Regions from separate parts of the Homo sapiens genome. Here region 2 is linked to region 1. Evidence: fine-mapped expression QTL. A gene starts in region 1. The other region holds a variant in brackets. All regions are shown on one strand. Distances are from middle to middle. Region 1 holds the start of GNG11 (G protein subunit gamma 11). Region 2 has its middle 22 kb from the start of BET1-AS1.

The links.
Region 2: its variant is fine-mapped to the expression of GNG11 in whole blood (TOPMed, PIP 0.94).

Annotation. Positions count from the first base shown.
Region 1 is chr7:93,915,001-93,927,150 of GRCh38, reverse strand. GNG11 (G protein subunit gamma 11) reads right to left here and starts at 5,416. Exons shown (of 2, transcript NM_004126.4): 1 at 4,918-5,416; 2 at 1-1,060. The coding sequence starts at 5,013. The coding sequence ends at 935. It overlaps LOC105375402 (a long non-coding RNA gene), which reads left to right. Exons shown (of 3, transcript XR_927751.3): 2 at 10,631-10,715; 3 at 12,056-12,150. RefSeq lists enhancers at 5,179-5,814, 11,613-12,150.
Region 2 is chr7:93,940,693-93,952,842 of GRCh38, reverse strand. No RefSeq gene overlaps it. Among named protein-coding and RNA genes, the nearest start is that of BET1-AS1, 22 kb to the left of the region's middle. The variant C/T (reference allele first, on the strand shown) is at 6,143.

The DNA.
Region 1 (12,150 bases):
TAAAGTGGGCAAAGATTCACTGGTTCCTTTGGAGGAGAAGAAAAAAAGGCATGTTTGGCCCAGGCCTGCTGGAAAATGCTGGCAAGCATGAGTGCAGAGGTCCAAGTGTCTGCACCAATGCCACAGAACTGGAGTAGTGCCATGCCCAAGACCTGGAGAGCACATGGGAGATGTAGCTCTGTGCAGGAATAAGTACTGGCTCTCAAAGCCAGGGCTGGCCTGGCCACTACACGGCAGAGAGGCAGGGCACTCTTCCTGAACCCCAACTCAGTATTTTCTTCAAGGCTACTACTACAGGAACACTATTAAGAAGATCTAAATGATGATAAACTAGGGAAGTACTAACATAGATGTGGCTTGGCCTTGTTCCTGACTCAGATAATCTGACTTCTGTCAATGTTATAGGAATTCTACCTGCTCAGTTTCTTAATAGTTAAGGTTAGATCAAACACGTTCCAGAGGTCAGAACTCAGCACTCTAAACCATTGACGCAGGGTTTGGAGATGTGATCTGTCGAACCACCTAACCTTCTGAATCATATTCCAAACCCAATCATACTCCACACCCAAAAGATTACGGGGAGAAATATAAAAGTTAATGCATGAAAAGTGTCTTCTTAAATCACCAACACTCATCTTCCCAAGACAAAACTTTATTTGAAGCATCAAGCAATATACTGAAAGAAGTGTCATGCTCAAGTAATGTTCTTATTTCCATAATTGTACATCTGATACTCTCTGCTCTCTTAAAAAAGACTGCATAGTGAGCAAAGATGAGTAGCACATATGCTTTTATACATAACCCTATCTATATGGTGCTTAAGAAAGTCTCCTTTTAATTTCATTCTTCCTTCCTTAAAAAGCATGTTGGTTTTATCTGGGAAAACTAAAACAAACTAGTTCTTCCACTTAGGATGCAGTTTCTCCCAAGTTATTTATGAAATAACACAGCTGCCTTTTTCTTTAAAGGGGTTCTTGTCTTCTGGAATTCCCTTTACTAGAGGATCCTCTCCAGAACGTTCTTCAATATAGTTCTTTATTTCTTCAGAACATTTAGACACCTTAAGTATAGAAAAAAAAGAGAATACATTAGGTTAGGGTTGTTTAAACTTTGTCCCTACGCCTTAATGAAATAAGTATAATTGAATACAATAAGTTTTTAAACATTTTTTTACATTTACATATATATGTGCATGTGTGTGTGTATATATTATATATATAATACATATATAAAATCTGGGCTCTGCACTCTAATATTTTTATTCTATTACTATACCTATGATGCAACCTATGTAAAATATATTTCTTACTGTTGGTCGTTGGTCAAATTAAAAAATGTTTGAAAGTCACTGCATTAAATAAATCATCTCCAGCAGTTTTTTTCCATTGTGTCTCATATGATTTCCTTCCTCTGCTAAAATACAATTATGCCATGTCTACAATATTTTAGGAACTGAAATATACTCTTATTTTAATTTTCCATGCTAGTGAGCAGGTGCAGTAGTAGATAATCCCCAAATGTTTTGGGGTGTGTAATGCCACGATTCTCACTTATGGGTGTGTGCCATGTTCTGAAATTTCACGAAATGATAGAAGCTTTGGAAAAAGCCTGATTCTGGAAAGATTGGAATTGTCCAAATATCGCACTCTGTGTTGCTCCTCAGAATTTCTTCCTGCTGCATGAGGGCAATGATCATAATAAAAGACTTATCTGAGACTTATTAGGCTTATCTGAGAATAAATTTTTTTCTGAGATGGAGAAAAAATTGAATAGTGTCTTCAAAAAGTCTATTCTTAAAAGAAGAGTTTCTTCAAAAAGTCTATCTATCCTTAAAAGACAGGTTGCAAGAATGAATTAAAAAAAGAATAAAAACAAAAGAAAAGAAATTAGGGTTTTAATGAAGGCCTGTATTGCTAGTAAGAAATTTAAAGTAAAAATTACAGAAGTACCAGCAAATTTAATTTAATTTAATTATTTATTTCTTTTTGAGATGGAGTCTTGCTCTATTGCCCAGGCTGGAGTGCAGTGGCAGGATCTCGGCTCACTGCAAGCTCCGCCTCCCGGATTCTAGCCATTCTCCTGCCTCAGCCTCCCAAGTAGCTGGGACTACAGGCGCCCACCACCACGCCTGGCTAATTTTTTGTATTTTTAGTAGAGACGGGGTTTCACCACGTTAGCCAGCATGGTCTTGATCTCCTGACCTCGTGATCCGCCCGCCTTGGCCTCCCAAAGTGCTGGGATTACAGGCGTGGGACACCGCGCCAGGCCGCACCAGCAAATTTAAATGGAGACCTATGAAAACTGGGCAAATGTTCCCATTGAATTAGTAATCTAAATTAGTAACCTCAAACTGTTTTAACGGTTACTACTAAAACATGTTTGCATGTGTATCCCAAAATGAATATAATTTTTAACTACAAATAAGTACAGACACTGCTTTGTTAATACATCATGCAAAATTATAAAACATAAACTGGAAATTATAAATGGGTGAGGTTTAAAACTAAACAGAAATAGCAATGTTAACATTTTACTTCCACACCCCAAATGATTATCCTCTGCAAATCAGTGTGGAAGCCTCTGACCTCAAATTGAAAACTAGGTGATGTAGTTGTGTGACTTAAAATCTGGCAAAATAAAATCTTTCAAATACAATTCTTTCAGGTAACATTTGCTCTCGTTTGTTGACATTCAGAGTGCATGCATTTTAAGTGAATTTTTAGAGTTGATAATGCACGTGTCATAATTTAGGGTCTGTCGTCCCAGGTTAATTTCTCAGCAAGATACATGCTCCCTACATTGAATCTTTTCTTACAAGGTTTTTTCATTAGGTTTCAGAAGAGGTCTGTAACCTCCAAATGTGAGTAATTGCTCCTCTGATACATTTCCTTCCATAATCAAGAGGACATGTTTGATAAACATTTAACTACAGCCAGAATGCAACTTGCAAGTTTTGTCTGGGCCTAAGTTAAGGACTGAACACGTAGCCCAGATGTTAACTATTTATTGACTGAATAATGGACTGGGAATGAGAAGAAGAATGTTTTAGTACCTGCCCTATCACTATCTATCTCTGTGGTCTTAAATGTGGAGCTAGTTAGCCTTTGTGGGACTCAAGTTTTTTTTAATCCTTAAAGTGAGGGAGATGAATGATCTCTAAACATTCCAATGCTTGCCTAGCAATAATAATGTATAATTCCAAGTGTATAATCAAATGTCTTAATATTATTGTTGAGATTTAGATGCCTCTTTCTGTATTTCCTAAGGTTACATATATCCAAAGTTTTTTCTCCCTCTGGCATACACTTGAGGTTTCTGGAGGTGGGAAGTTGATGCCACAGGCCGTGTCCTAAAGGGTCAGGCTGGCTAGCAGGGAGAAACTGCTAATGAATGATACAGTCAATTTTTACATAGTCGGTTGCATCCACATCACTTAACTTAAAACTCTGAGTAAGTAGAAGACGCTTGTCTTTTTTCCTAAGTTCTACACAGTGATACCAAATATTAAGATATTAGAACCTTGCATAGACAATGCTGTACTTCAGCATATGAAACTCTGTTTAATATGTAACTCCTAAGGTTTATTGTGTGAACATATCTAAGTGGCCAGCACTTGCTGTACTGGGAACTTCGCCATCCATAAAATGGGTCCCTTAAGGTTTCAAGAAGCGTGCTTATTGATTGGGTAGTGTAACTTCCTTTTTTTCCCCTTTAAACGCGTTGGTGTTTTTAAAGCTACAAACCCTTAACATGATAGAAGGGACAGCTCATTATAAAAGCTAGGAAGAGCCGGGATTTGGATGTGAAAGGTTAAATTTGAGAAAAGAAATATGTAAAAAGTAAAACACAAAAATGCCTGCATCTTCTAATCATCACTCAACAGTGAAGACTCTTGCCCTTAACAGATTTATTATAACTAGAACAGGAAGGCAAGTGAGCATATTATAACGCTTCATTTCCATTGTTTTTCTTAATTTTTTCTAGTGCTAAACCATAATAAATAAGATCAGTTCAAAATTTTCTTGCTGAAGAGGAAAGGTTAATTATCTTTAAACAATATCTATTCAAAGACCTTTCCTAGTCTACAGGATGCCTGATTGAGTTAAAACAGGAAGAGGGATTAGTGTCTGAAGGAAGGTCTTGATGACCAGTAAGAAATTGAAGTAAAACTTATAAAACTCCCGAGACGTTTCAGTGGAGAATATTGAATACTGGGTCATATGTTCTCAATGAAATGGTAATCTCTATCAATAGTCTCTAAAACTTTAAAATTGTGATCACTAAAAAAATTTTTCATATGCACCACAGTGTATGTATAATTATTTATAAATAAGTACAGATACTACTGTATTAATCGCATACTAATAAAACATAAAGTGAAAATTATAAAGGGATGAGATTTACAAATAAATATAGAAATTCTAATATTTTGTTCCCAAATTTCGGTGGACTGTTCTTTGCATATCACTGAAGGCCACTGGTGAAATTCAAAATTAAATAATGTACTTGTAAGACTTTAAAATACGGTTTTAGAAAATTTCTTTCAAATATCATCCTTTCTAGTAGTGTAAAAGATCAAAGAACCAAGTAGCTATCCGCTTTTTTCCTACAAGTGAGTTTTGAAAAACAGCTGTCTAATGGAAAGCAAGATTTCTTGTCTATTTTCCCCTTCCTAGGCATCTTAAAAGTTAGGACATTTGGCCTTAAATTACTTATCAGATCCTTGCTCCCTCCTCTACCTCCTAGGATTTCCCCACATCAGCTGGCAGTCCCCAGGCACTGCCAAAGGGTGGTGAGAAGAGAAGCTACAAAAAGGGGGAAAAATAAGCTAAACTATTTGCTTTACTGTTACTAAGCAGGAAAAATCGGACCCTGCTTCATTTCAGAGAAGGAAATATTCCGGAACAGCCAACTTACTTGTTGTCTCTGCAACTTCACTTCTTTGCGAAGCTGCTCAACTTCCATTTTCAGTTTTTCCTTCTCTGGCAAATCTTCGATGTGAAGGGCAGGCATTTTCGCCCCAGAACCGGGCTCGGGCTAGCTCTGGCAGCGGAGCCGCTGGAAGAGCGGCGAAGCTCGGCGCGTCCCGAAACAACTGAAGGCCTGGCCCGCCGCCCACCCGCGCAGGATGTGACTGCAGCCCTGCTGCGGTCCCCAGCTCCCCGAGGGCTTGGCTTTCTCCGGGACGCTTGTCACGCCAGCGTGCCCCAGCTTCCTAGGACCTGAGAACTCTGCCTTTTCTCAAGTCCCTGCAACCCAGGAGGCCTGCCCGGGTGCTAGATGAGGGTTAAGTTTGAGACTGGGTCCAAGCAGCTTCCCGCTGCTCAATCGCCCAGCAGGGATGCTGGCCACGGACAGGCCCTGACTCAGGACCTGCCACGCCCGCGGGGGACGGCTGGGCTGGGGCTGCAGGACTGGGAACAGCAGAAGTTTTACTTTGTGTTCTCCGCGCACCCCCGCTCCTTTTTTTTTTTCCGTTTCCAAGTCACATCCGGGTTTTGTTTGTGAAGCTAGGAAAAGGAGTACACTACCCAGCAGGAAATAACTACCCTTCACCTCTCAAAGAGTTTTAAAAATATGCTAGATATAGCTTTTCCCTAATTACATACATAGGTTGTTGCAAAAGTAATTACTTTTCTCTAATTACATATATAGGTTGGTGCAATTAGTTTTGCACCAACGTAATAAATGCATAGTGGAGAATGCGGACGCTTAAGAAAAGGCTGAAAAGAAAATGAAGCTTAGCCCTAATCCCAGAAATACCCACCAGTGTTCTGCTCATTTGTGTCCATCCGGCTTGTTCGAGGCCTAATATGGGTTTATACATTTTGGGCGAGGAGGGGGCAACAGGGTGTGAATATCGTTTACAAGTTGCAAGAACATTTTCTATTATTAAATAATCATCTGCATCCTCAACAGCAGCAGAGTTTGTATTTTTTTTATTTTTCCGGGGGAATGTTATGTAGAGGGGTGCATCAAAGGATGATATAAGAGAAGACAGAAGCAGGAATCTTAGAGTTCTTAACCGAAAGCCTTTCTCCACTCCCCAACCCTAAGTTTTGGGTGACACTTGACACCAAGGATTTTGAATTCCTGGCTCCTGAACCTTCCTGGATGTAGGCAGTGGATTCATTTAGTATTAGTTTCTCCACTTTCTGGCAAGCACTATTTATCTAGCTGTTGCTCTGGAAAGCCAGGAAAAGTGTCCGATGTGAAAAAAGTTTACATGCAATAAAACTTTCCCTTTAACTGTAACTAAAGTCTTGTTGATGGTGGTCAAAAGAGTAGAAGAAAAATCAAACATGAATGTAAGAAACCTTCCCTAGCAGTTGGATATTTCTCTTTCTTTCCAGAGATAACCTCCTGCCTCACAGAGTCAAAGGCAAGTGAAATATTAACTTAATATTTCAGAGTAGCTGACCCAAGACACCCATGACCATTCCCTGTTTAGGAAGCAGGAGTTTTTGTTCGTTCCTAGTTTCTTACCACGCTCCGCTCAACCTCAATGAATAAATTAGAATGAAAAAAACAATGAACCACTTAATGAATACTCCTGGCGTGTAGTTGCAGCTCTGCCACAGGCCATCACTGAAGAAGTCATTTAATTTTTCTTAGTTTTGGTTTTCTAATTTGTAAAATGTATAGTAAGGCAGGGAAGTAGTGAATCAGCTAAGCTATGTTGTGTCTCTAATTGTGTTGGTATGTCTATATATGATAAATCATTTTCACAAAGAAAATGTTTAAGAGCTTCACTTTCAATATTTGAAATACCAGGGTTTTCCAAGCTCAGAGTAGTTAGAGCATCTACTGAAGTTTACTTGTAAATAAGCAGGGAGACTAGACAAATGTCCATATCTGTCTTGTGCACTAATTCATTTTTAAAATTTTCTATTACTTAAATTTAAAAGGTTGGTCAAAAATACCTTAAATTAGTGAAAGTAATCAACGTGAATGTGGCCTAAATTAAATAGGTTCAGCACCTAAGTTAAATAAATTGGTTAAATAAATTATTGTGTTTTTGTTCTTTTTTTTGTTTTTTTGTTTTTTTGTTTTTTTTTTTTTGAGACGGAGTCTCGCTCTGTCGCCCAGGCTGGAGTGACTGGCACGATCTCCGCTCACTGCAAGCTCCGCCTCCCGGGTTCACGCCATTCTCCCGCCTGAGCCTCCGGAGGAGCTGGGACTACAGGCGCCCGCTACCACGCCTGACTAATTTTTTGTTAATGTGTGTTTGTTCTAAGTCATAAAAATATAATTATTTTGGCTTTGAAGTTTCTTTCCCATGAAATCATCTAGTTGCTTAGAGGGATAAATACTTATAAGCCCATATTGGTTCTTTAACTTTTCCCATCGTATTATGAGACGTATTAGAAACAAAATACTTGTTAGTCTTTTTTATTGTTATTAAATAATTCATATTCTAATATCTTAAGTAAATTGATTAAACTGAAGTGAATTGCAAAATGTTGAAATTGCATGATCACACAGGATTCTGAAAAAGGTTTTATTGTTGCTGGTTTCCTGTTTGTTTGTTTGTTTGTTTGAGACGGGGTCTTGCTCTGTCACCCAGGCTGGAGTGCAGTGGCGCGATCTCGGCTCTCTGCAAGCTACGCCTCCTGGGTTCACGTTATTCTCCTGCCTCAGCCTCCCAAGTAGCTGGGACTACAGGCGCCCACCACCACGCCCAGCTAATTTTTTTGTATTTTTAGTAGGGACGGGGTTTCGCTGTGTTAGCCAGGATGGTCTCGATCTGCTGACCTCGTGATCCGCCCGCCTCGGCCTCCCAAAGTGCTGGGATTACAGGCGTGAGCCACCGCGCCTGGCCCTGTTTGGTTTTAAATAGTAAAATGATGAGAATATTTTTTTTTAAACAAAAGGATGTGTAGTCTTCTATGCCTAGACACCGAATTTACCTCCCAGAGAAGAACCATGTTAAGCAATTTCTCATGTATACTTGCAGAAATAGTTTATCAGCAATATTCAAAAATTTTGAATAAATAAATTTTAAAATTTGTTTAGCTGTGTCCAAATGTTTTGTTAGGTTTTTACTTATATTTTACATAGTACCCCGGTAAAATTTATTTTACAAGTAGTATGAGTAGAAACCATTCTTTAGTAAAAATGACAGGTGCAACCAGCAATGAACTTTGATTAATTAGCCCACTGTCGTTTCACAAATGTTTTATAGAAATTAGTTAATAAAAATAAAAGTAACCATTTTCACTTTTAAATTATAAAAGAGTAACAACCATGAAATTTTTACTTTGGTATGCAAAAATAGGAAAAACAAGGTTTTGACAATTTTTGTGATTTGTTATGTTGTTAAAAATCTATATAAAGAAAAATAAAACATTGAAGGCAGTTAAACTGGAATTGAGCTAATACTAACTTGAACTCAAAAAAGATCAGGATTCTGGTCTTATTTTATCTTGTGATTTTTGCAAGAAACACATTATTTCTGCTTTTTTATTTCGTGTAAGTAAACTAGGTTACCTTTCAAAGTCTGCTCTTCTAAAATTTATAGAGTGACTTTGAGAGGCCGATACAGGAGGATCACTTGAGACCAAAGGTTCAGGAGTTTGAGACCAGCCTAGGCAACATACCGAGACCCCGGTCTCTACAAAAAAATAAATAAATATAAATAAATAAATAAATAAATTTAAAAAGTGCATAGTAACTGTTTTGACCATTGAAATTATGGTTTCTTTAAAGAAAGTACACTTCAGACGCTCTTGGTTCATTTGATATTTGTTTTAATCTGTTAAAACAATCATGAGGCAATTTTCAGGAGCTCATTTGTTTCCTGTAACTACCTACCTAAGATTCCTTTTCTTTTTTTTTTTTTTTTCTTGGGCAGGGGAAGGAGTTTAACTCTTGTTGCCCAGGCTGGAGTGCAATGGCGCGATCTCTGCTCACTGCAACCTCCGCCTTCCGGGTTCAAGTGATTCTGCTGCCTCAGCCTCCCGAGTAGCTGGGATTACAGGCGTGTGTCACCACAGCCAGCTAATTTTGTTTTTCTTTTTTTCTTTTCTTTTTTAGTAGAGACGGGGTTTCACCATGTTGGCCAGGCTGGTCTCAAACTCCTGATCTCAGGTAATCCTCCCACCTAGGACTCCCAAAGTGCTGGGATTACAGGCGTGAGCCACTGCACCCAGCCCTAAGATTCCTTTTCTAGATGAAGAGAATGCCAAGTCAAAGGATGATCTGTGTCTGATGCTCTGAGTATCTTAGCAACTACTTATAATTCAGGATATCAAAATGATTTCTCTGGCTGGGAGTGGTGGCTCTCACCTGTAATCCCAGCACTTTGGGAGGCTGAGGCAGGAGGCTCACATGAGGTCAAGAGTTCGAGACCAGCCTGGCCAGAATGATGAAATCCCTTCTCTACTGAAAAAAAAAAAAAAAAAAATAGCCAGGTGTGGTGGCATGAAATTGCTTGAACCCAGGAGGCAGAGATTGCAGTGAGCCAAGATCGTACCACTGCACTCCAGCCTGGGCGAGAGAGTAAGACTCCATCTCAAAAAAATAAAATAAAATAAAATACAAATAAAAATAAATGATTTCTCTTACCAATTTTGTTTCTATATTACTTTAACTCCCATCATATATAACTGATCATTCTCATTACTTAGTTTACTATTTTCCTCATGTAAACACATTATTGAGGCATTTAGGAAGTTTGATCCAATATAAACTTTTATAAGCACCACTCTTGCCTGCTTTTAAAGTCAATTACATTGTCCAGACAATTTGTTAGTTGATATGACACTTTTCAAAGATGAACAGTGCTTCTGACTTGGGAAATCTCCAATGTAGTACTGAAATTAAAACAACCGTAGAAATTATAATGAGAAAAAGTAAAGTAACGTTAAATGACTTAAGAGACACACAAAATACTCTTGAGGTAGAATGGGAGAGATAGTCTCATAAGAAGAGTAGGATTTCAAAAGGCTGAAATGGGGTGGAGTGGAGGGAGATCTCAGGTGGAGGGATCAGTATGACCAAATTCCAGGTGGTGGGAAAATGTCCACGGGAAGTATAATAATAGAGGACATTTGTTAGGCTTCTTTCTATGTACCCGTTTCTGATCTAAGAGATTATAAGTATTCAGATAATCTAGCCTAATCACTAATTTTATATATAAAAAAAAACAGATTCAAAAAGTTCACGTCATTTGTCCAAGTTCTCAATGACAAGGTGGAAGAGTCAGGGTTTTAATTTTGAATTGTTGGGCTGCAAACTTTGTCTCCAATGGTAAACTGAAAGTTAGAGATGTTGGTTAGGACCATCTTCTACAGGTTACTGAATGCCATAGCATGTACTTACTTTGTATTTATTTTAATCAGAGAAAGGGAGATATACTGAACACTTCACTAAATAAATACTAACTTGCAGGTGGAAAACTTCTAGAGACAAACCACAATTAAATAAACAAATAAATTGTAGTATGCCAGGTGGTGATGGTGCTACGGGGGAAAATAGACTGAGAGAGAGAGACAGGAAGCGCTTGGTGGAGGTTGGGAGGACTGTATGGAGAGGGTTTTGTAAATTTAAATAGGAGGATAAAAAGCTTTTCTTGAGGAAAAATAGATAAGACATTCAGTAACTAATCCCAGAATCCCTTAATACTCAGAGCACATTTGATGAAGACACGTGGTGGGGTGTGTTGCTGACTGTTCAGCCAGAAGCCCAGAGTCTTGACCGAAGAAATTTGTCAGGTGACTTCTCTGAAACTTTATTTTCTCCATTTCAAAATGAAGAGTTTAGACAAGAGTCAACAGATATTTGTTGAGCATTTATGATGATCAGAGTGGGAGGGCATTGTGCTAGAAGCCAAACTTTGGTACAACTTTCAGACTCCCTTCCAGACCAAATAATAGATAATTTTAATGTTTTTTTTTAAAGTGTGACAATCAATTAGTATTTCTGAGTATTCTGATCACTGAAGTATACAAAATAGCACTGTAAATGTGAGACAGCAACAAGAAAACACTGACCACAAAAGTGGTTACTGATTTAGGTAATTACAACTTGTCATTTGTTACAGAAGCAGAGGCAAGTTTTCTCTTAGTCATTAACACAATGGTAGTGAAATGTGACTCATGTAAACTCAACAGGATGCCAGAAGGACCTGATGTAGGTGATGGAGATTTCTCTCTCATGTGTGCTCACCTTGTTAAAGAAAAGACTGTGGTGTTGAGTCTTCATGATGATAGGGTAAAATAGCATGTTTCTTAAAGCACTTTAGAAATTTTGTCTAGATCCTTTCTCAGTAATAATACTAGTTAACACTTATTGTATCTTACCATGGACCAGGTAATATGCTGAGTGTTATAGTTGCATTAGTGTATTACTTAACCCCTACACAAAACAGAAGATATAACCATTATTGTCTTCATCCTATGCTAGGAGAAACAAATTTAGAAAGAATTAAGTAGCTTATCCAAAGTGAGTTGGGCAGTAAAGTGGCAGAGCCAGAACTGTCTGGCTCCTAAGTGCATGCTTATAACCGTGATTCTGCTGCTGGTTAAATTCACCGTGCTCCGTGACCACAGACTGAACCCTCAACCCAGTTGGCATTCTGGGGAAAAGTCACAAGATAGGTGAACTGCATATCAGAAAAATAAGCTTCCTAATTCCATAAGCAAGAGAAAGTTTGGGAAAGAAAACAGAAATTTAACCACAAAATTTCTGGGTAGAAAGTTATAAGTATTGAAAGGGAAGTGAAAAAACATAAAACAGTAAATATATGCTGACAACTCAGAATAATATAGAATCATTTATAAAACATAGTTCTTTTTAAAGAACTTTAAGCAATATTTTTTTGGCAATTATGTGTTAAACCCTGTGCCAGCTATGTTAAGAAAAACATAGAATGATGGGTTACCACACCCCAATTTTTATTAAAAGTTTACATCTATAAATTTAAAAATTCATGTACATGCATAGTAGTAGCATTATGTGTGAAAAAAATCCATATTGTTGTTAACGTTTGAGATATTTCCAAGAATTTGTTTAATTTTTTTTCTTTTTTTTTTGGTATTTTGAAATCACACAGCCTCCTTTGAGCTCTTTGAAGGGATTTTTGTCCTCTGGGATGCCCTTTACCAGTGGATCCTTGCCAGATCATTCTTCAACGTAATCTCTTCTTCA
Region 2 (12,150 bases), 26 kb before region 1:
CTTACTTGGTGGTGGCAAGAGAGGAGAGAGTTTGTGCAAGGAAACTCACCTTTTTAAAACTATCAGATCTCGCAAGACTCATTCGCTATCAAGAGAACAGCAAAGACCTGGCCCCGTGATTCAATTATCTCCCACTGGGTCCCTCCCACAACACATGGCAATTATGGGAGCTACAAGATGAGATTTGGATGGGGACACAAATCGTATCAGCATGGAACACATATTAAAATTAAAAATAATAAATATTTATTGTTATTATTTACCAAGAGCATCATCAGCTCAATGGTCCTCTATCTATGCAAGCAGTGGTTCTCAAAGCATGGTTGGAAGACCAACAGCAACAGCATCTTTTGGGAACTTATTTGAAATGCAAATTTTTTGGCCCCACTCTAGACCTACAGAAGCTTTGAGGAAGGCTCAACAATTTGTGTTTTGACAACCCTCCCAATGGTGGTGATGCATACTAAAACTTAAGAACTACTAAAACCACTATATTAAATAAATTGAATTCATCATCATAAACAAAGATAACACTAGGCCCAAACACCTCCCCTCATGAATATTATTAAGTTTGCAGAATGAAATAATAGAAATGATACAAAAACATTTTGCAAAAATTAAGGAAAAGGAAATGGTTTTGAACTAATTTCAGGAGGCCTGCATAACCCTACTACTAACCTGATGAAAATATTGTAAGGAAAGGAAGCCATAGACCAATATTCTACGTAAAATTATATATGAAAATTTTAAACAAAATACTAGATAATTTAATCTAATAACAGAGAAAAAGATAATACATCATGACTAAGTGAAGTTTATTCCAGAAACACCAAGTTAGATTGACAACACAAAATCAATCAACCCTGCAATTAGTAGTATTAATGAAATAAATAGAAATATTATATGATCCATTTAATAGGTGCAGACAAGGCATTTGACAAAATTCAATACCTGTTAATGTTGAAAATCTCCCATCAAAGTAGGACTGGAAGAGAAAATTCTAAATCTGATCAAAGAAATCTATTAAAAAACCAACAATTAACTTCCTACGTAATTGTGGAATGTTATACTTAGAACTCTTAGAACAGTTCCCGGCACAAAACAAGTACTACGAAAAAGATTGCAAAAAAAGTAATTACTCAAATTTTTCATTCATCTTGTCATAAATGCTACAAGTAACTACATGCTGTAAAACTTTATGACATGATATAAAGTAATTAAATTTTATCCTGGCAAAATTAAATATTCAATAAATATTTTTCTTAATTTAATGGCATTCTGAATATTTTAAGACAGGAAAAGAGAGATTTTGAATCATAAAAAGTTTTAAACATTTTCATTATTTTCCTTCTCTCTAAAGAATGGATAATGTTTTTCTATTTTCATAGACTGAAAATGTTTGCAGCAGCAATACACGTTCCCAACTGTGTGATCATGTGTTTGCATGTATCTGATCTGTTATTCACATCAGGATTCCTTTTTATCTTGTCCTACTTCATGTATATGTCTGAATGAAGCCTGGTCTTTCCATGCAGCATCAGAGGTCAGTAAAACACATACATTTAGGTGGTGACTCAGTGGTTCCAACTGGACCTTAGTGTCCCAGTCATGTTTCCAACACAGACCTTCAAATTCAAAAGCTTATTTAAAGAACTGCAGTTATTTTTCCACTTCTGTTCAGGTTTCTGAAGGATGAAGGTATTTTTTCCTTAAAATGCCATCTTGAGTTATGAGCTACCCCTAACTTTATTTCAAGCTTTCTGAACTTGAGTCCTCTCATCAGAAGAAAAAAGAAAACCCACCTTTATCCATAAAAGGAGGAGGAGACTGAGTCAAAATAAGATTAGGCAATTTAAACTGCTGCAGCCAGTAAGGGCCAGAGCTGAGATTTGAACCCAGGTAGATAGGGCCCAGACTTTCAGTTCTTAAACATTGTATATACTGCCACTCAAATTAAAATCATTTGCTTGATGTCTTCCATAAGTTGTAGGTTTCACAAAGTCATCAACCATTTACCTTGTTCACAGGACCTACCTAGTACCTAGATTTCCAAGAAACAGATGTTGAATAAATGAATCATGTCAGGTAGCAATTATCCCTAATCTGCAGATGAGGAAACTGATATTTACAAAGCCAAAATAATCTAGTCAGAATCAAACAACTAATACACACAAAATTTGAACCTGAACCACTCTGAATTCAAATCTTTTCCTCATTCTTTTTCATACCACACCACAATAACTATTCTCTAGAAATCTGAAAATCTTCAAAAAATGGATAAACAAGAGGAATGCAGTTGGGGAGGATTTGTCCCCTTGAAGGATGTATATTAAATCACATCTATCATGAGGCCTTTAAGAGTACTTTATAAAAAGAGATACTCATCGTCACCTCCTGGTGATGGCAAGGGCCTTGAGGTCCCAGATATGATAATGACTATTGTGATGATGATGATGATAATGACCGAAATAATAATAATAATAATTCCTAAAATAAAGAATTAGTCTTAGTACCAGAAACAAAAGAGACTGAAGTTCTACTCATGGAGCGTAATGTTGTTTACCTCAATTAGGCCATTAGGCATCATGCATGTAAACTTTGATGTATTCAGTAAAAGAGATCTACTCTTTTCACATACAGAAAATTAACTAGGCAAGTGAAAAATTCACTCAATTCAGCCATAACACAACAAATATCGATTTAGTATTGTCACTAAAATAGCACTTCACAATCTAATGGACAGTTTTTTAAAAAAATTTTAAGCTTTTTACTTTGTATGTATCTTGACGCTGCATGAAATATCCTTAAAGAGGAAAGGGATACGTTTAAGTTAAGGAAGGAAAACTGGACTGAAAGATATCAATACAATTGTAATAAAAAAATTCAAAGGAAGTAAATCAATGTGCTCATATTCTTTACAGATTCATAGCTCAAAATGGAAAAATTCACATTTTAGCAGATGGCTAATTATTAGTGTAACAGGAACAGCATTCATGTCATGAACAACAAACTCAGTAAGCCATTATCTTAATAGTGATGTTCAGTGTAGTTCTATCCTGTTACATTCAATTGTTTTCTTCTTAAAGAAGGAAATTGAAAAAGAATTGGAAAAGCAGACATTTGCTATCATTCAGGGTTAGCTGCAGGCACAGCCACAGAGCATATTGACGTAAATAATGGACACTTACTGTCCAGACAAGGGGGTGACTCACTCCCAGACTGGCTCTCTGGATTGAATTGTAATTACTAGAAACTTTCACAATTTTCTGCCTCATGTTGTGAATAAAAAGAGAGCACAAATTTATGTTTAATGGTCAAATAAAACATTTGTTGGTTTGAGTAACCTAATCTAATCTTTTGATCAATCTTTTGATCACTAAATGACTAAAATACCATATACTCATTCTTAAAAGTTGCAAGAAAAGGAAATATAATCAGTAAGATATGTGTTGACAACAATCTGTAAACAAAAGACTAAGCTAAAGTATATTGTTCTTACTTTCATCCTTTCTGTTCTTCTTCCCTTCTCTTATTCATTCATTCAACAAATATTTATTGATTACCTATCATGAGTAAGTTTAAGTGTGTAGACACTTGTACTACACATCCAGCCCACATAAGTGAGCTAGCATACCATATTGAAATAGGGCAGTATATGGTGGATAACATCTCAATAATAAGCAGTTCAAACAACCGTGATTGGGGAAGCTAGATAAAAAACAGCTTCCAGATGGGAGTAATCAGGTAAGGCATCAGAGACCCTTCTTGAATCTCATCAGGACTGCCAATCCAATTACACCCCTCCCTTTCTCCCTCTCTCCCTTTTTCCCTCCCTCCCTCCCTCCTTATCTCCCTCCCTCCGTCCCTCCCTCCCTTCCTCCCTCCCTCCCTCCCTCCCTCCCTTCCTTCCTTCCTTCCTTCCTTCCTTCCTTCCTTCTTCCTTTTTCTCTCTTTCTTTCTTTTTTTGTTAAACCTACTGGCCTTTTCTTCCTTCATTTTCCTCTTCACAATATATATTCCACCATTCCAATAACAATCTTGAGGACAGGTGTGGTGGCTCATGCTTGTAATCCCAGAACTTTGGGAGGCAAGAGGACTGCTTGAGCCCAGGAGTTCAAGATCAGCCTAGGCAACACAGTGAGACCCCTATCTTTGCAAAAACTCAAAAAAATTAGCTGGGCATGGTGGTGGACAACTGTAGTCCCAGATGTTTGAGAAGCTGAGGCAGAAGGATTGCTTGAGCTTGGTAGGTCAATGCTGCAGTGTGCCATGATCTTGTCACTGTACTCCAACCTGAGCAACAGAGTAAGACTCTATCCCTGAACAGAAACAAAAACAAAAACAAAAAATCCCCAAAAAACATTCTTGGCCACATTCTAAATGTACTTATGTCCCATATTTTGATCACACTGGTCTTAACAAACCAGTCCTTAATAAACCCACATATTGAGTCTTTCTTCATTTACATTCTTTTCTGGCATTCCAATAATTTTTTTTTCAAATTACTTTGCAATGACATTACTCTGCAATGACTGTTTCAAACCGTTTACATTCTCCTGAAACTCCCATCCCTACTACTTCCCACTTCTTCCTTGGTGTCAGAGGTTGATGTCACTTACTATCTCAAAGGGAAAATAGATGCCATCAATTGGACATTTCTTCAATCTCTAAATCACATGCTCTAAGCCACCAAACACACATGTCTTTTCTCCTCACCCATGTCTACTCTTTGTCTTTTTGCAAGACAGGAGGTGGCCTGCTCCTTGCTCACACTAAATCTCCTGACTTTTGAGCTTATCCTCTCCCCCTATCTTAGGAACTTTACTCAAATGTTTTTTCTCTTTGCATTATCTTCTAACTTTCCCATTAAACCTGAATATTTTTAATGGCTTTTAAGCTACCTCCAGCCACTCCCAAGAAAGAAGATTCGTTCCTCATTCTCTTTCAGCCACAACAAGCTCTCCAGAAATATTATACATTTTTGCTGTCTCCACTTCTTCATCTCTTGATCACTAGCCAACACTAATCTGGCTTGACCCTTTACCACTCCACCAAAAGAGCTCTCATCAATGTTCCCAGTGGCCCATGTCACTAAATTCTATTCCCCACCACCCACTTGTTTTTGTTTTTGATTTTCATCTCTTTTGATTTCTTAGGAACATTGGAAAATATCAAATACTACATTCCTCTTGAAAAACTTTCTTCTTTTGACTTGTATCATATCACATTTTCCTGGCTTTTCTCCTGTATTTGACCACAACTTGCTGGTGTCTTTTGCATGTTTCTTCTTCCTACTCCCAAGATAACTATTAGCCTGCCTTCAGGCCATGTCAAGTCTCTCTTCTGCTCACTTTTACAACTCACCTTAAGCAATCCCATGGTATTAGCTAGCATCCATGTCTTTGTTGGACATAAATCTTATGCCCCTTCAGAGATGTCCCTCGACTGCCTCCTTCTTTTTCTTTCTTGGTCAGTGCCCCACCTGGATGGACCTGGTCACACCTCTACCTCAAGGCTAATGCTGAAGTTGTTTGAGTTGGCTGTTAAAGATTGAGTAGAATTTTAAAAGATGGAATATAGAAGTAGAAGAATTAATTCCAGAAATCTAAAGTGGCAAAACAAAAGTGCACACTCATAAAAAAAAAATCAAGGCAAATTTTGGAATCAGCAAGTAGTGTGCTTGACATGAGCACAAGCTTTAAAGGTAGGTTAAGCCTGGCTTATGGAGAATTTGGCTGTCAGAATAAGGAGCCCAGTTCTCATTCAGTAGATAATAGCAATCCCATGATGGTTTTCGACAAGAGACATATGGTTTTAAAACAGTGGTTTAAGATGGCAAACCTAAAGATCTTTTGCAAGGTGGCTTTCAGAAAAAAGACTATAGAGACAGGAATATGAAGCTGCAATGTAACTATTTTAAGCTTTCTGTTTTGGGGTGATAAAAGCTTTAATCGAGAAGACAATGGAACCGGGAGGAAGAATGGGGCCCAGAAAACACACTGAAGGACAGCAACTAAATTTGGCATGCCTGATATGCAACAGATGAAAACACAGGTTAAAAAGTCTCCTTAAGGTTAAAAGTAATTGGAAAAAGAAAGTCACTGTTTATGTTCAGAAGGGGAGTTGAAAATGTGAAACTCAC[C/T]TCTAAGAGTGAAGCCTGGAGTACTCACATTAATTTGAAAGCTGTAAAGAGATGATAGCTGAAAATTTCAAAGTTGAGTTTTCCAAAGAGAAGGACGTAGAGAAGGGGAAGAGAAGAAAGTCAAGAATAAGGCCTTAGGAATTATATAAAATGTTAACAAAGGAAACACAAAAAGAACAAGCAAAGAAGAAATTCATTTTGTGCAGGGCTAGATAAGCCAGAGAAACGGAGCAGGTCAAGAATGCTACTGAGAGGCTAAAAGGAAAAGAAAGCATTTGGCAAATTCCAAGAGTTTAAAAATCCTTGCAAGGAATTAAGAAGAGATTGATGAAACAGCCTGGTGTTTTAACAGACATTGTGGTTAAAGGGGGAAAAATGTTATAATGTGCTAGTTTAAGTAGGGAGTAGAATTGGTGAAAAGTCTGTGGCTTTGCATGCTTGGTTAAAGCCAAGGAAAAACTGACAGCATATTTTTAGTGAGGAGGGGCAATTATTGGAGAGAAGAGACATAATAAGGTAAAGAAGTGACTAAGTGATGAACATTTAGGAAAACGGAAGAAACTAAAGGAATTAAAGGAACTGGGAAAGATAAGTTATTTTAAAAAGGAAGGACACCTTGTCTTGGATATAGGAAGTTATATCGTGGTTGAAAATAGATTAGCTGTGAAGACCTGAGAGCGATGTGCTCAGAAGTCTATTCAAACTGGATGAGATAAACTTTGCAGACACTACTGGAAAAGAAAGATAAGGGAGGAATCAGATCACATGCAGTTATATGTCTCCTAAAATAGCCATGTATTAGGCAGAGAGGAGGGGCTGCCAAAATAGTTTTTCAGCATTTCTTTTGGAAAGCGATTAATGATAAGTTTTGCCCAAATGATTGTATTTGCTATATTTTGGAAAGTCTAAACCTGGGAAAGCAAATAGGTTTAACATGTCATGTCAACTCCAATTGATTAGTAAACCTGCAGTGCTATTGGAAAAGATTATGAGGGCTGTTCTAGCTCGGTAAGAGAGCACTCAGTGACTGATTAGCAATATCTACTTTGAGCCAAGCATAAAGGGTTGATATATTTGCTAACTCTGGAACCATAACTGTAAGTTATTTAGTCCAATTTTCTGACATACAGATCAGAAGCAAGGCCACATTTAGGTATCCATCACAGATTTATATGAAAGTGGAAAAGTCATAAAAAGCCACCCTACTTTAAGGTTCCTTAGCTGAAAGATATAGACCTTGGAACTTGGGATTTGAAACCTACAGGGTTCAAAAAGAAAAAAATCAGACCCCACTCACTTATCCGATCTATTCTTATTCCTTCCAAGTTCATTTGGGACTGGCTTTAGAGTCAAGGTATTGCTCTGTTGCCCAGGCTGGAGTGCAGTGTGTAATCATAGCTCACAACAGCTTCGAACTCCTGGGCTCAAAGTGATCCACCTCCTTCAGCCTCCCAAGTAGCTGGGACTGCAAGCACACATGCCACTATGCCAGGCTAGGTAAATATATTTGAACATTACAGTCAAAGAATTATAAATCAAAGTTCGCTCTACTATCTCAGATCAATTTTCTGATATTCTTTTCAGCAAGAACAAACACTCTGTTCTGGATTTATAATATAAACATTGATATATTTCTAGAGTATAACTTTATAATCAAAAAGAGTTAACTTTTTGATTAACATTATAAAATTAATGTCTATATTTAATAGTCACATTCTTGTTTTTATACTTGTTGTTATAAAATTCCTCTGCTATTATGTAGTGCATTGTTCATGTGAAACTGTTTTTAAAGGAAGCACAGTTCTGTCTTGATAAATATCAGGAAACTGCCAGATGTTTCCTACTGTCTAAGCCAAACCAGTCAACAGTATGATCATGCTTTAACTAACACGGTCACAAAATGCATACCACCCACAGTCTCTCTATAATACAGAGTCCAGTGCTTTAGCACACAGCAAAATGTACAATTTAAATAGAAAACAAAAGAAAGAAGTGAGGAATGTCATTCTAGTGCAGTTTTAACTTTCTCACTGAAAAATAAAATATACATTAACCATTTTAAATTTCTTAATCCAAAAAGGAATAAACTTGCTTTCTAATATCATGGGACATTTCCTTAAATGGAATAGAATTTACAGTTTTTCCCTTAAAAATGGAGACTTCTTTGAAAGATGAGAAAAAACAAAATGAACTTGTTCAAGAATAATATATCAAGAAAGGCTAGTTACTAAGCAAGTTTCTATTTAACCCACAAGTCGTTGTCATGCCCTTGAACAGTCTGCGTTCTAGCCTCAGTCACCTTGACAGGTGGCGAGAAGGGGAGAGACAAGTAGACTTTCAGACAGAATAAATAGTATCACAGTGACTGGGAGACAGAGAAGCTTAAGATTTACTTAGCTATCAACCAGCTGTTTCTGGATAGGTATATACAGATGAACAAAAGTAGAAAATACTGGCATAGGAGATCCAAAATGTGTGTTGTGGAACCATGAAGCCAAATAGTTTGTACTTAAATTAGAAGGCAAAATAAGGCAATTGAGGGTTTCTGTAAGGGGAAATGTATTTTGGATTGGTGGTGAGTTTCTGCATGCAGAAGGATAAAGAAAGAAGTGTGTAAGACAGGGATCATGGTATGTCTGTGTATAAGAGCCTGAAAAGTGTTGCTATCAAATAAGTTGGAAAAGCTCCAAATGGCAGAGGCAAGCAGAGGAGCATGGTAGGCGAGGTTTTGATGTCAAAGGAGGAAAAGGCTTTGAGTAGAAACCAGATTCCAGTTATATAGAAGGTCACAAGTGAATGAGACTTTCAATACACTGGACTTGGCAGTTGGAAAGTCATAGAGAGAAAGTTGGTAGTGAGAATAAGATTGTAATATTTCAAAAGAAATAGAATTTAATTTTTCTCTTCTGAAAAAATGGAGACTCGTTTAAAAGATGAGAAAGAAATGCATGTATTTAAGAATAATATTATTGTTAAGTATGATTAATTAGTAAGGAATGGAGGCAGGCAAATTATATAATCAATGAAATACCTGATGATAAAAAGATCTGAAATTGAATAAAACCATAGAGAGTATTGCTCTCACAGGAAGCAGGAACAAAGAAAAATTTCTTCTTTTGCTTTGTTGTTACAATTGTTGTTATTATTGATTTAGGTAGATTGTACAAATCATGTTTTTAGGCAGAAAAAAGAAACATAACCAATTGAGGGCAAGAGGTAGAAAATCTAAGACAAGAAGGTATAACTTAGGTCCCAGGAGATCCACAGACACCGGAGTTCAAAAACACAGGCTTAGTAAAAGAAACAAAACCAAAAACAAGAACAGAAAACAACGAGACACTTGTTTCTCCATCGAAAAAGAGAAGGACCAGGAAAGAAAGATGAACAATTAACACATTCTCATGTAGGTAGGAGAAAAATTAGGGGAATGTACATCTGATATTTTCAAACTTTTCCACTGAGTAGACGTGTAGGACATTTGCCAGCAAGATGGCAGGCTGAAATAGTGCTGGACTCTTGAAGAAAAGAGAGAAGGTTTGTAAATGATACAGTAAAGAATTCAAGTGAGAAATAAAAGAACCCCAGTGTGCAGCAAAGGTTAGTCAGGTTTTCTTCTCATCTAACCAACACCTCAAGTGCAGATGAAACTCAACGCCATGATAAGACAAGGATGGTCACCTTCTTGGCAAGAGGCTATGGAATTTTATGTCAATCGTTATAACTTTCTTACCACACTATCTTATATGTAACTGAGTGACTTGTACTCGAAGTGGCCACCTCTTTTCTTCCTGAGGAAACAAAAGTAAATTACCTATAGGCCTACTTTAGTCCGGAAAGGCTCACTCCTGCACTCTCTTTCAGAGTGCCTGCCAGTAGGATCCACTGATATGACCTAAGGAAGCCTGCTCACATCACATGTTGCTGCCCAAAGCTGATCATAGAGGAGGAAGTAAACCAATTTTCATAAGAAGTTCAGAGCCTTATGGGAGGGAATGAACTCCTGCTCCCTAATATTTGATGCTAAAATATCTGTTGGATTGGACCAATGTAACACAAAGTTGGCAGGCAAGAAAAGATGCCAAAGGTCTCAAAGAGAAATGCACTCATAGGGCAGAATCGATTATGTGCTGGAGAACCCATTATGTGCTGGCAACTTGTGATCCATTGTTGGGTGGCTGGCACAGCAGTTATCTCAGGCTTGTGCTTTGGTGCATAGTTAGTGAACATATGTGTGACTCAAACAAGGGAGCCATCAAATTTGGGCCTAAGCTTGAAATAAATGGGATTCAGTTCAACAAGCACATTACTGAAAAATGAAGAAACTTTGACTGGACTGTTCAGAAGCAACAGAAAATGTAAACTGATCAGGTGTTCCATTTCTCTACCCTCCTGGTATTTGATAGCTCAACCGGTCCCATTTTCAACTTGTAAATATTTGGAGTGACCATTAAAACGTAAGCAAAAGACACAAACAGTCACTTCTCAAAAGAAGACATACTAGTGGTCAAAAAACATACAAAAATATGTTCAACATTACTAATCACCAGAGAAATGCAAGTTAAAACCACAATGAGATATTAACACCATCTCACACCAGTCATAATGGCTGCTGCTAAAAAGTCAAAAAACAACAGATGCTGAGCAGGCTGTGGAGAAAAAGGAAAGCTTATACACTGTTGGAGGGAATGTAAATTAGCTCAGCCACTGTGGAAAATAGCTTGGAAATTGCTCAAAGAACTTAAAACAGAACTACCATTTCACCCAGTCTTATTACTGGGTATATATATATTTTAAAAATTGTCCTACCAAAAATACACATACACTCACATGTTCATCATAGTACTATTTACAATAGCAAATATATGGAATCAACCGAGGTGCCCATCAACAGTGGACTGGATAAAGAAATTGTGGTACCTGTACAGCATGGAATACTATGCAGCCATAAAAAAGAACAAATTCATGTCGTTTGCAGCAACATGAATGCAGCTGGAGGCCAGTATCCTAAGCTAATCAATGTAAGAACAGAAAACCAAACCTTATAAGTGGGATCTAAACAATGGGTACTCATGGACATAAAGATAGTAATAATAATAGATGTTGGTGACTATTGGAGGGGAGAGGGAGGGAGGGAGAGGGCAAGGGCTGAAAAACTACTATTGGGTACCATGCTCAGTACCTGGATGATGGGATCATTCATTCCCCAAACCTCAGCATCATGTGATATACTCAGATAACAGACCTGCAACTGTACCCCCGAACCTAAAATAAAAGCTGAAATTGTTTTGAAAAATGGGGTGATAAGGTTCAAGTGGGAAATATATACTTGCTACTAATAATACAGAAAACAATAATTTAATAAGAAAATAAGAAAATATCATCATACTGTTACTGGGAACCACTAAAGACTCCTGTGCGATTACCTAGTCAATTTTCTTTCCCATTAGACTATGAGCACCAAGATAGCAGACATGGACTTATTCATCCTGGTCTCTTTAGTACTGAAAGGCAGCTGGTCTACATTCAATATGTTTTGACCAACAGAGTGAAGAAGGGAAAGAAGGTGGAGGAGGCATGGAGAGAAGAGGAGGGAGGACACAGCAGCCTCCATGGAGGAGCTGGTTCAAATGGAACCCTAATCTCTTAGCTGTGAGCTGATTAGGAGGAAGGGAAGCTGAAGATGATAGATTTAGCAAAGGCTGCTGGGCCAGCAAGAGCATGCAGCAAGAGCATGCCATGGGTGAAATACAGTTACCCCAAAGAAAGTCTGGGAACAAAGGCCAATAATCAGAAATGAGTTGGTGTCAGGGATTTGCTGTTGAGGGAGAGAGGTCATCCAAGGGGAAGCTCTGCAAGCAAGCCAAGATGAAGGCTGAGGGCGATGGCAGTTTCCAAACAAAAACAGGTAAAGACAGAAAAGGAAGAGAGGAGTTGGAGGTGAAGTTTGAAAGCAAAAGGAAAATGAACTCACTAAGATGGTGAGGCAGAGACTTATTTACAGATGAATA